3 linked regions of the Homo sapiens genome follow. The protein of the gene in region 1 purifies or fractionates together with the protein of each later gene. This does not show direct contact. Each region holds a gene or a part of one and is shown on either strand. Other genes may lie near its edges. The genes, in order: ABHD17A, CCZ1 and CCZ1B.

The links.
Region 2: the proteins of ABHD17A (region 1) and CCZ1 purify together in Homo sapiens (affinity purification with mass spectrometry, with the first as the bait; one large-scale study listed by BioGRID). This does not show direct contact.
Region 3: the proteins of ABHD17A (region 1) and CCZ1B purify together in Homo sapiens (co-immunoprecipitation; one large-scale study listed by IntAct). This does not show direct contact.

Annotation. Positions count from the first base shown.
Region 1 is NC_000019.10:1,876,187-1,879,428, forward strand, and holds the end of ABHD17A (alpha/beta hydrolase domain-containing protein 17A), read right to left. Parts: exon of another isoform or gene 2,719-3,242; coding exon of another isoform or gene 2,697-2,718; exon of another isoform or gene 2,561-2,696; coding exon of another isoform or gene 2,478-2,560; exon of another isoform or gene 1,508-2,477; intron 1,502-1,507; coding exon 1,322-1,501; intron 1,240-1,321; coding exon 1,014-1,239; 3' UTR 624-1,013; downstream 1-623. UniProt on the Homo sapiens protein: Hydrolyzes fatty acids from S-acylated cysteine residues in proteins. Has depalmitoylating activity towards NRAS. Has depalmitoylating activity towards DLG4/PSD95. May have depalmitoylating activity towards MAP6.
Region 2 is NC_000007.14:5,905,230-5,908,877, forward strand, and holds part of CCZ1 (vacuolar fusion protein CCZ1 homolog), read left to right. Parts: coding exon 1-40; intron 41-3,648. UniProt on the Homo sapiens protein: Acts in concert with MON1A, as a guanine exchange factor (GEF) for RAB7, promotes the exchange of GDP to GTP, converting it from an inactive GDP-bound form into an active GTP-bound form.
Region 3 is NC_000007.14:6,802,185-6,805,832, forward strand, and holds part of CCZ1B (vacuolar fusion protein CCZ1 homolog B), read right to left. Parts: intron 2,872-3,648; coding exon 2,754-2,871; intron 1-2,753.

The sequences.
Region 1 (3,242 bases):
ACTTCCGCTTCCGTCCGTGCTGCGGCCCCGCACGTGACGCAGCGCCTTCTCGCGCCCAGACTGAAGCACCGCCCCCCCTTAAAGGGGCCGCGGACTAGAGCTAGCTGGATGCAGCTTGGGATCCCGGCCTCGCCACCGCCTGGTCGCGCGACACAGGCTGAACCCTGCCCAACCCTAAGGTGGACAACAGGCCACCGGTTCCCGAGTCCTCCCGGTCCTAAGCCTTCTGCCCTAGAGATCGTAGGAACTCTTCTCGTGATCCCAGCTCCAGTGTCGGCTCCCTCTTCCAGGGGAGACCCTCGGGGCCCAAGCACCTGCCACCGCCCTCTGCTGGACCCCAGCTTCGCCATCTACGAAGGAAGCGGCCTGTCCGAGCTCTGAGGTCCGTCAAGCGCGGCACCTCAGGACCCAGAGTGCGCTGTCCTGGCCCCTCTGCAGTAGGACTGACGGGAAGCTGTCGAGGGGGCAGTCCCGCGATGGCAGCAGGGCCCCCACGCCTGGCGTCCTCATCGCGCCCACCCAGCAGGGCTCACCAGCCTCCCTAGGAAGCAGGCAGGGGTCCTGGGCTCAAACGCTGCCCCACCCATCATCGCCCAGGCAACCAGCTCCCTAAGGGCTCCCCGGACTAGACAGAGACCCACCCCACTTCCGCAGAGTAAAACCTATAAGGGGGTCCGTGCCGATCTCTCCTAGGGACTCAGGGACGAAACCTGGGAACCCCGGCCCCCTTTCGAGCTCGCTGAGCGCTCGAGAGAGTGAGCAGAGCCATGAAAGGAAGGAGAGCAGCCCTAAAATTTTAAATCTTTAATTTCCGTTTTCACGTATTTTCTTCTTGCTTCCAAAAGGAAAGGAGTGCGTAGCTCTGTTGCCTGTACATCGTCCACAGCCCCTGGGTCGGGGCGGGGTCCCCTGGGCCGCCCGGGGGGTCCACATGCAGCCCCTGGGTGGGGGCCGGCGCGGGGTGAGGTCCGGGGGCCGCCTTATTGCTGAGGTCCGGCCGGTTGGGGCCGCCGCTAGGCGCGCTGGCTGGGCAGCTCCTGGGAGATGAAGCGACGCAGGCGCTCCAGGTACTGGCTGTAGAGCTCGATGTCGTTGTGCCCGGCGCCCTCCACCCACAGCGGCTCCACCGCCTTGGGGCAGCGCTCGTAGAGCGCCAGCCCGTGCGAGAAGTCGATCACCTCGTCCTCCGTGCCGTGGATGATGAGCACGGGAGACGTGATCTTGGACACCTTCTCGATGCTGCGGGAGGGTCGTGGAGCCGGTGAGACTTCGCGCCCGGCCCGGGCCCCGCCCCGCCCCCGTCCCCGCCCGGGCCGCTCACTTAGGGAAGGCGTCGAAGCAGTAGGTCTTCTTGGTGTCGGGGAAGGCGACGCGCATGCCCGAGGTGAGCGGCGAGTGCAGCACCACCGCGGCACACTCGTAGCGCGAGGCCAGGTCCACGGTGGGCACCGTGCCGATGCTCTGCCCGTACAGGATGATGCTGTCCGGGCTGATGCCGTACCTGGCGGCGCCGGAGCAGGGTCAGCCGCGGCCTCCGACGCGCGCGCACCCTTCCCACCAGCGGGCGTCCCCGGGCCCAGCTCCGGATGCGACCCTCCAGTCTCCCCACTCAGCCAAGTCAGTGGGTCAGGCTCAGGCTCCACACCAGTCCCGAGGGCCACCCCCAGCCCCCAACACCGTGGCGGTGGGCGAAGCCAGCGGCCCCGCCCCGTTCCCTGCGCTGCCGTTCACTGGCGTTTCCTAGCTAGGATCTGCAGGGATCCTGCCTACGGAGTGCCCCTGGGGCGGGGGTAAGGGAGGCCCTGGCGCCTCTCCTCCTCCTGGTCACCCCTAGGTGCACACTGGGAACTGTGTGGCCCCCACATCCTGAATGCTTCACACCTTCCTGCCAGGGTTAGAAAACCGTTCCTGGTGCACTGGCCAGGACAGCGGACACTATTCCTCCCTGCAGCCCTTGCCCACCCCCTTGGCCATGAGGAATTCAGGCAGCTGTGTCCCCAAATGTCTCCACCCAATTTTGGACTCTCGGAGTCCCCACGCCCAATGAGATGCCAGTGCAACCCAGGTCAGCATCGAGGGTGGTGGCTGCGGAGGTGGCACCCCCTCCCACCAGCACCTTCCCTTGGGAGTGGACAAGTCCTCGGCCACCTCAGCACCACCAGCTCCCACCCAGGGGCACCCTCACCCCCAGGTCATTGGTGTGCGGCCCCTGACCCAGCTGATCCAGCACCAGTTACAAGGCCTCCTCGTGCCCAGTCCCAAGCACACGGGACCCACCTGCCACCCTGCCCATGCCGGGACCCCACAACTCTCCTCCCACACGCTCTAGGCTCTGATCCCAGGCAGACGCCCTCTTGCAAGGCAGGAGCATGGGCAGGTGTGCGTCCCCTCTGCCTGGCATCTCCACCAGCAGGGCTGTCCCCGTCCCTGGCCTGGAATCCCAGCCTCCTGGCAGCACTCCACAGCTCGCCACTCACCCATGCCCCAAAGGATGCTGCCTGGCTGGTGCCTGTGGCTCCAGCTCTGCCTCGGCCTCCCTGGCCTGCTCCCTGGCAGCCATGGTCAGTAGTGTGCTGAGCCAGCCCAGCCCTGCCACCTGCTACAGGCAGGAGCCCCGAGCTGCCACCTGGATGTCACCACTCAAACGAACAGGACACATCCCCGGTGGAGGCCCTGGGCACGCTCTGGCCTCCCCCTCACAGCTCTGGGCCTAGGTTCCTGCAGGACAAAGTGGCAGCAGGACAGATGGCCGAGCAGACAGAGCTCAGAGCTGGCCATGGCAGGTGTGACTCTGCCAGTGGCCCAGGCAGTAGAGACAGGAGGGGCCGAGGAAGTCGCATGAAGTGGTGATTGGTGTCAGCGTCCCACACTGCTGGGAGGCCCCCAGAGCCAGGGTGGTGCCAGGGGACCAGCTCCCAGGCCCACTGCAGGGACTGCCTGCATATCACCAAGGCAACGACGACCCCACCTCCCTAGGGCCTCTGACTTCTCAGAGCTGTGCCTGGTCCCTGTGGGAGCAGGTCAGACCAGTGGGCTGGGCAGGGCCAGGACGAGACAGGCCCAGTGGATGGTGAGCAGGAAAAGCCACCAGAGGCCCACCCGGGTCTCCTCGTCCAAAGCAGCACTGGCCCGGGCGGTGCTCAAACACCGGTGAAGGGCCCAGGCAAGCGCAGGGCTGGGGACGTGGATGACTAGGAGGGCTGGATCTGGAATCGAGGCTGGCCCAGACCTCGGATGTGTGC
Region 2 (3,648 bases), on another chromosome or scaffold:
TCAAATACACTGCTTTTCTCTATAACGATCAGCTCATCTGGTAGGTACACCCCGAGGCATGGTATTAAAAGAAGAAATTAAGATAATAAAAACAGCAGTGACTGGATTGATGACAGGTTGTCAAACAGGAACTTGCAGCGGGGAGGATGGGTAGGAAGCATCTTCATAGATATTGTCAAAATAAAGCAGTGATTATTTAAAGCAGAACTAGGGTGATTTGGGTTCAAATTTCCAAGCAGAGGAGTTTAAAACTGGTTGCATGAAAGATGAAAGGCTGGGCACGGTGGCTCACACCTGTAATCTTAGCACTTTGGGAGGCTGAGGCGGGTGAATCACGAGGTCAGGAGTTGGAGACCAGCCTGGTCAACATAGTGAAACCCTGTCTCTACTAAAAATACAAAAAGTAGCTGGGCGTGGTGGTGCATGCCTGTAATCCCAGCTACTCAGGAGGCTGAGGCAGGAGAATCACTTGAACCCGGGAGGCGGAGGTTGCAGTGAGCCGAGATGGCACCACTGTACCCCAGCCTGGCAACAGAGAGAGACTCTGTCTCCAAAAAAAAAAAAAAAAAAAAAAAAAAGAGAAAATGTTCCTATCAAGTAAGGTTTAGGAATCCTGTTTTTATTTTGGAGTTTTTTTTTTTTTCTGAAATGATAAAAGCAGAATTTTTATACCTTTTTTTTTTTTTTTCTTTCTTATAGAGACGGGGTTTACTGTGTTGCCCAGGCTGGTCTCAAACTCCTGGCCTCAAGCGATCCACCCGCCTCAGCCTCCCAAAGTGCTGGGATTACAGGCACGAGCCACTGCACCTACTTTCTTTTAAAGAAACTAGATTTCTTTTTTTTTAATCCAAGAAATCCAAAGTGTTATATAAACCAGGAAATTACCTGCTATCGTGAAACTAGGTTTGTGTCCTGCAGTAGGAACAACGTGGGCACAAGACTGCCCAGCATATGTGACCCCTGAGAGCTGGGTGGCAACCGAGGTTGTGCACATTTGGCCTAGAGTAGGTGGACAGAAGTCATCAAGGCTTGCAGCTGTTCTGGGACCCTCAAGTTTTATGTTCCCGTTGACTAGAGCCCACTTTCTTTCTTTCTTTTTTTTTTTTTTTTTTGAGACGGAGTCTCACTCTGTTGCCAGGCTGGAGTACAGTGGCGCGATCTTGGCTCACTGCAACTTCCCCTTCCTGGGTTCAAGCGATTCTCCTGCCTCAGCCTCCCAAGTAGCTGGGATTACAGGCATATGCCACCATGCCCGGCTAATTTTTGTATTTTCAGTACAGACAAGGTTTTACCATGTTGGCCAGGCTGGTCCTAAACCCCTGACCTCAGGTGATTCCCCTGCATAGGCCTCCCAAGGTGCCTCGATTACAGGTGTGAGCCACTGCACCTGGCCTAGCCCAGTTTCTTAATTAGGGGTGTGGCCATATGGTACTACTATAAGGTAAATTCAGCTAATAGAAAAGGCAAAACTAGTTCCCCTAAAATTTACCTTCCCTGCCAAAATCTTGTAGCTCCATTTTAAGAAGAGAAACAAGTTACTGTAAAGAAATTTGAATCCAGTTAATAAACAACTTGGTGGGTTTCCACATGAACTTTATCTCCTAGGAAGACAACAGAAATTTCGGGTGAAACCCATCTACTTTTTTTTTTGTTTTTGAGATGGAGTCGCTTTCTGTTGCCCAGGCTGGAGTGCAGTGGCATGATCTTGGCTTGCTGCAACCCCTGCCTCCTGGGTTCAAGCAATTCTCCTGCCTCAGCCTCCCGAGTAGCTGGGATTACAGGTGCATACCACAACACCCAGCTAATTTTTTTGTAGAGATGGGGTTTTACCATGTTGGCCAGGCTGGTCTCGAACTCCTGACCTCAAAGGATCCGCCCACCTTGGCCTCCCAGTGCTGGGATTACAGGTGTGAGCCACTGTGCCCCGCCTCCACCTACTTTCTAATTTGACAAATAGTTTATCAGGCAACCTTACACTGTACTGACTCAGCTATAGTTGCTTTCTGTGATATGTACACAATGTTACTAAAGTGAAATTCTGCTGTGAAATGTAGGAGATGGGAGGCTAGTTGTGCTTCTGTAGCATCAGGTCTGCAGAGGGATGGCTCCTCCACAGATGGAAATGACAGGACGTGCTTGCAAGTCACACGCAGCCACAGCGATAGGGAGATGTCATGTGACAAGCCAGAATCCAGCAGTAGTGGCCCATGGCCTTGCTTCCACCAAAAAGAGAAGGGTAGCTGAGATTCTGATCTCTGGGACAGAACACAAGCCCCGCCATGGGTGCAAACTCCTGAGAGTGAGGAAGAGGGAAGGCTTAGAGCAGAGGGTCTTCCAGGAGCTCATTCTGGGAGACCCTGGAGCCAGAGTGACCAGCAGGGTTGGCCCTTTGAAGCCTGGAGTCACAGGACAATCTGGCGCCCAGCTCTGGGGATCCTGTTGGCATCGTCATCTTGGAATAGCATCTGAGGGGTTGAGCAGGGCACAGCTCTGGTGGCTGCACAGAACTGTTCTGTTGTCACCTCCAGTGTGCTCGTGGGGAAAGGTCAGTCCCAGGAAGTAGCAACAAAAATAACCTTCAAGCAAAACAGGCGCCAATGCTTACACCTGTCATCCCAGCACTTTGGGAGGCTGAGGCAGGAGGATCACTTGAGACCAGGAGTTCAAGACCAGCCTGGGCAGCATAGTGAGACTGTATCTACAAAAAATGGAAAAAAAAAAAAATAGCTGGGCATTGTGGTGTGCACTTAGAGTCCCAACTACAGAGACTACAGAGGTTGAGGCTGGAGAATCACTTGAGCCTGGAAGTTTGAGGTTGCAGTGAGCTATGATAGCACCACTGTACTCCAGCCTGGGTGACAGAGCAAGACCCTGTCTAAGAAAAAGAAAAACAGCACGTTTTGACGGAATTGCTTATTCCAAAGCTGTTATATTAAATACCAAAAAGACTTTTAAGCCAGGCGTGGTGCACATACCTATAGTCCCAGCTACTGGGGAGGAGGAGGCAGAAGGATCGCTTGAGCCAGGAGTTACTTGGAGACCAGCCTGGACAATATAATGAGGCTCTGTCTCTACCAAAAAGTGGAAAAAAAAACTTGTCACAAGCAGAGTATATATTACCCTTATGTATTTACTTAGTATATTGCTTTGATTTTTTTTTTTTGAGACTGAGTCTCATTGGCTTGGTTGCCCAGGCTAGAGTGCAGTGATGTGATCTCAGCTCACTTCAACCTGCGCCTCCCAGGTTCAAGCGATTCTCATGCCTCAGTCTCCCAAGTAGCTGGGATTAGAGGTGTGTGCTATCAGGCCTAGCAAATTTTTATATTTTTTAGTAGAGACGGTGTTTCGCCATGTTGGCCAGGCTGGTGTTGAACCCCTGACCTTAGGTGATCTGCTCACCTTGGCTTCCCCAAGTGCTGGGATTACAGGTGTGAGCTTCCGCGCCCGACCACCTTCACGGTATTTCAGTGATCTTGAATAGAAAACGCCCAGATCCAGCCTCATTGTCTGTCTCCTTTTAAAAAACCGGTTCCAGAGTCTGATACCTGCTAGTTTCTCTGTGCTTTTTCCATGTGCTGCTCCTTCCTGCCTCATTTCAGATCAGGTGGTTTGCCTGAAAGCTTGTTTTTCTCCTCCTCCTCTTTCTTC
Region 3 (3,648 bases), on another chromosome or scaffold:
ACATCACTGTAAAACGCAGTCGCCTTTTCCACTGCAGTCTGATGAACATTTTAAATGGGATATACCTTTTTATTTCTTAAACTGACTAGGCAGTGCTACGACGCTGCCTCCCAGGTCAGAGTCTGTGACCTCCTCGGGGACCTAGTGGGAAAAGCTGGGCCTCACTGCTCCTGGGGCCCCTCCCCTCCCCTCCCTGCACCCTCAGTGTCCACCCTGGGGCCTGGATGGGGCCTGAGCACAGCCCCGCCCCTGGGCTCAGAGGCCTCCTCTGCTTGCTTCAGGGTTAGCAGCCACGTTCTGGAGGGCTGGGGGTACCAGAAATCCGACCTCCGGACCAATGGGGTACTCATGAAATACTCTACGTCCAGGCAAAGAAAGAACGTGGAGGATTGAGTTTCCAGGAACATGTAAAGAAACTTCTTATAAAACCAGAATTTGTTTTCATAGTTCCCTAAGGTTAAGGAAAGTATAATGACAAGAAAAACTGTTTGGAAAGAGTTGTAAATTTAGTTGTCTGGGTAGACAAGGAACTTAAATCGGGTGTAAGCTTCTATCCTCAAAACACTCTGTGAGGCCAGGAGCAGTGGCTCACGCCTATAATCCCAGCACTTTGGGAGGCTGAGGCAGGCAAATCACTTGAGGTCAGGAGTTCGAGATCAGCCTAGGCCACATGGCGAAACCCCGCCTCTACCAAAAATACAAAAATTAGCCAGGCGTGGTGGCACACACCTGTAGTCCTAGCTCCCGGGGAGGCTGAGGTAGGAGGCTCACTTACAGCCTGGGAGGTCAAGGCTGCAGTGAGCCATGATTGCACCACTGCACTCCAGCCTGGGCGACAGCAGGAGACCCTGTCTCCAAAAACAAACCCACAAAAAAACAAAACAGGTGACACGTTCTCTATGGTCACTACACTTTGTCACTTTCCATCTGTTAGTTGATAACCTGCATGATCCAAACCGATTTAACTCACTTTTGCCTCCTTCACAAAGGAAAACCTGGTATTTTCACGGCCAAAGGATTCAATGATTCAGCAGCACTGTCAAGATATAAGCTGTTGGCTGGGCATGGTGGCTCATGCCTGTAATGCTAGCACTTTGGAAGGCCGAGGTGGGTGGATCACCTGAGGTCAGGAGTTCAAGACCAGCCTGGCCAACATGGCAAAACCCTGTCTCTACTAAAAATACAAAAATTATTAGCTGAGTGTGGTGGCACACGCCTGGAGTCCCAGCTACTCGGGAGGCTGAGGCAGGAGAATTGCTTGAATGAACTCAGGGGCTGGAGGTTGCAGTGAGCTGAGATCATGCCACTGCACTCCAGCCTGGGTGAAAGAGTGAAACTCTGTCTCAAAAAATAAAAACAAAAAGCAACAAAGATGTAAGCTGTTGACAGCAGTAATCCACACACTGTTGTACAAAACCTAGAGGTGCTTTCACCTTTGCTCGCTTCTGCGCTCTTAGAGGCCCACGGTTATACAAGACCATGCAGAAATAACATATGGGCCGGGCGCGGTGGCTCACGCCTGTCATCCCAGCACTTTGGGAGGCCGAAGTGCGTGGATCACGAGGTCAGGAGTTCGAGACCAGTCTGACCAACATGGTAAAACCCAGTCTCTACAAAAATACAAAAATTAGCCAGGCATGATGGCACCCAGCTACTCAGGAGGCTGAGGCAGGAGAATCGCTTGAACCTGGGAGGCGGAGGTTGCAGTGAGCTGAGAACAGACCATTGCACACTCCAGCCTGGGCAACTGAGACTCTGTCTTAAAAAAAAAAAAAAAACCCAAAAAACAACGTATGAACATTAAGACCATGAGCGTATGCAGAAATTCACAGCCTTTTAGTAACTTCTCAAATGTGTAGAGAGCCCATTTAAAAGCAGGACTTCAACTTCGCAAAGTGCTTTCCATCGCCTCACTTTCACTTTATAATAACTATTTTATATTGAGAAAAGATAGGCATGGCCGGGTGCGGTAGCTCACACCTGTAATCCCAGCACTTTGGGAGGCTGAGGCAGGTGGATCACTTGAGGTCAGGAGTTCAAGACCAATCTGGCCAACATGGTGAAACCGTCTCTACTAAAAATACAAAAAGGAGCCGGGCATGGTGGTGCACGCCTGTAATCCCAGCTACTCAAGAGGATGAGGCATGAGAATCGCTTGAGCCTGGGAGGCGGAGGCTGCAGTGAGCCAAGATCAAGCCACTGCACACTCCAGCCTGGGCGACAGAGTGGGAATTTGTCTCAAAAAAAAAGCCAGGGAGAAAGAATTCAAGGACATTTCAGTGTCTAGAGAGCCGGAGGAGTGAATCCCGCCTCTCCCACTCAGTGTAGACACTTCAGGCTGCCAGACTGAGTACCCAGGCCCAGTGCCCCACATCCCAGCCAGTTTCCCCTACACATTTTCACACAACGAGAGGCAAAATGCTTTCAGTCTGTGCACACCAAGACCACGCCGATGACTACTGTCCAAGTGAACGTAACAATCTGGGCTGGTGAAATGGGACGTTCCATTCGGGGGGAGCTGAGGGAAGGTATTTACCAGAAGGCCCAGCCCCAGCTGCCAGCGTGGGGCAGAAACACTCAGGGTGACTGTCCCCGGGACCCTTTCAGACAGAGGCCTGAATGGCACGTAGCACCATCCTCTACAGTCCACGAGAACACAGGACTGTTAATACCACCCGTATTTGTAAGTGAAAACTACGTGTATTTCAAAAGCCGTTCAATGCCTGAAAGTGAACCGAAAGCAAAGTACAAACCCAGACATCCTCTTGTTGATGTTAAACTGTTCACAGATGTCAGAGGCCAGCACTGTGAGCTGGGGCCCAACGATGCTGTCCAGTCTTCGGCAAAAATCCAACGTTGGGTGGACAGAGGCTGGCAAGTCATGACAAAAAATACCAGTAAGATTCATTTTACTGTGCGACACTGAACAACAGTATTCAAACGAAAACTTCACTGGTCTGGGAAAACAAACAATGAATGCTCAGGCCCCCTTCTGCTCCTCAAATAGAAGAGAAACAGAAGATAGAAAACCGGTTACATTTCAGATGAAAAAAGGGCGAAGACCTATCTCACCGTGAAAAGCTGACCGAGGCACACCCTGTAGGGTGGTAAACGGTTGCCTACCCCAGAAAGACCTCAGAAGGTCGTATGTTTATTTAACAAACATTACGTAGCACTCATGGGCCAGGTGCTTCACAGACATGACCTCATTCGATCCTCAGAACCCCCCCGAGAGAGGTACCACTGCTGTCTCCAGCTCGCAGTCGGTGGGACACAGAAAGATGCCCACACTCTACTGCTGACTAGCGGGAAAACTAGGACTTAAAAAATATGAGCACTGGCTAGTTAAGGAGACAGGGGGGTCCCAGATGGGGAACAGGGCTCCTCTCTATGCCTCTATATTGCTTATGACAACACATTTATCATTTAATGGGCTGGGTGTGGGGGCTCACGCCCGAAATCCCAGCACTTTGGGAGGCTAAGATGGGTGGATCGCTTGAGCCCAGGAGTTTGACACCAGCCCGGGCAACATAGTGAGACCCTGTCTAAACAAACAACCACAAAAACATTAGCTGGGTCCGGCGGTGTGTACTGGCAGTCCCAGCGACTTAGGAGGCCAAGGTGGGAAGATCACTTGAACCCAGGAGG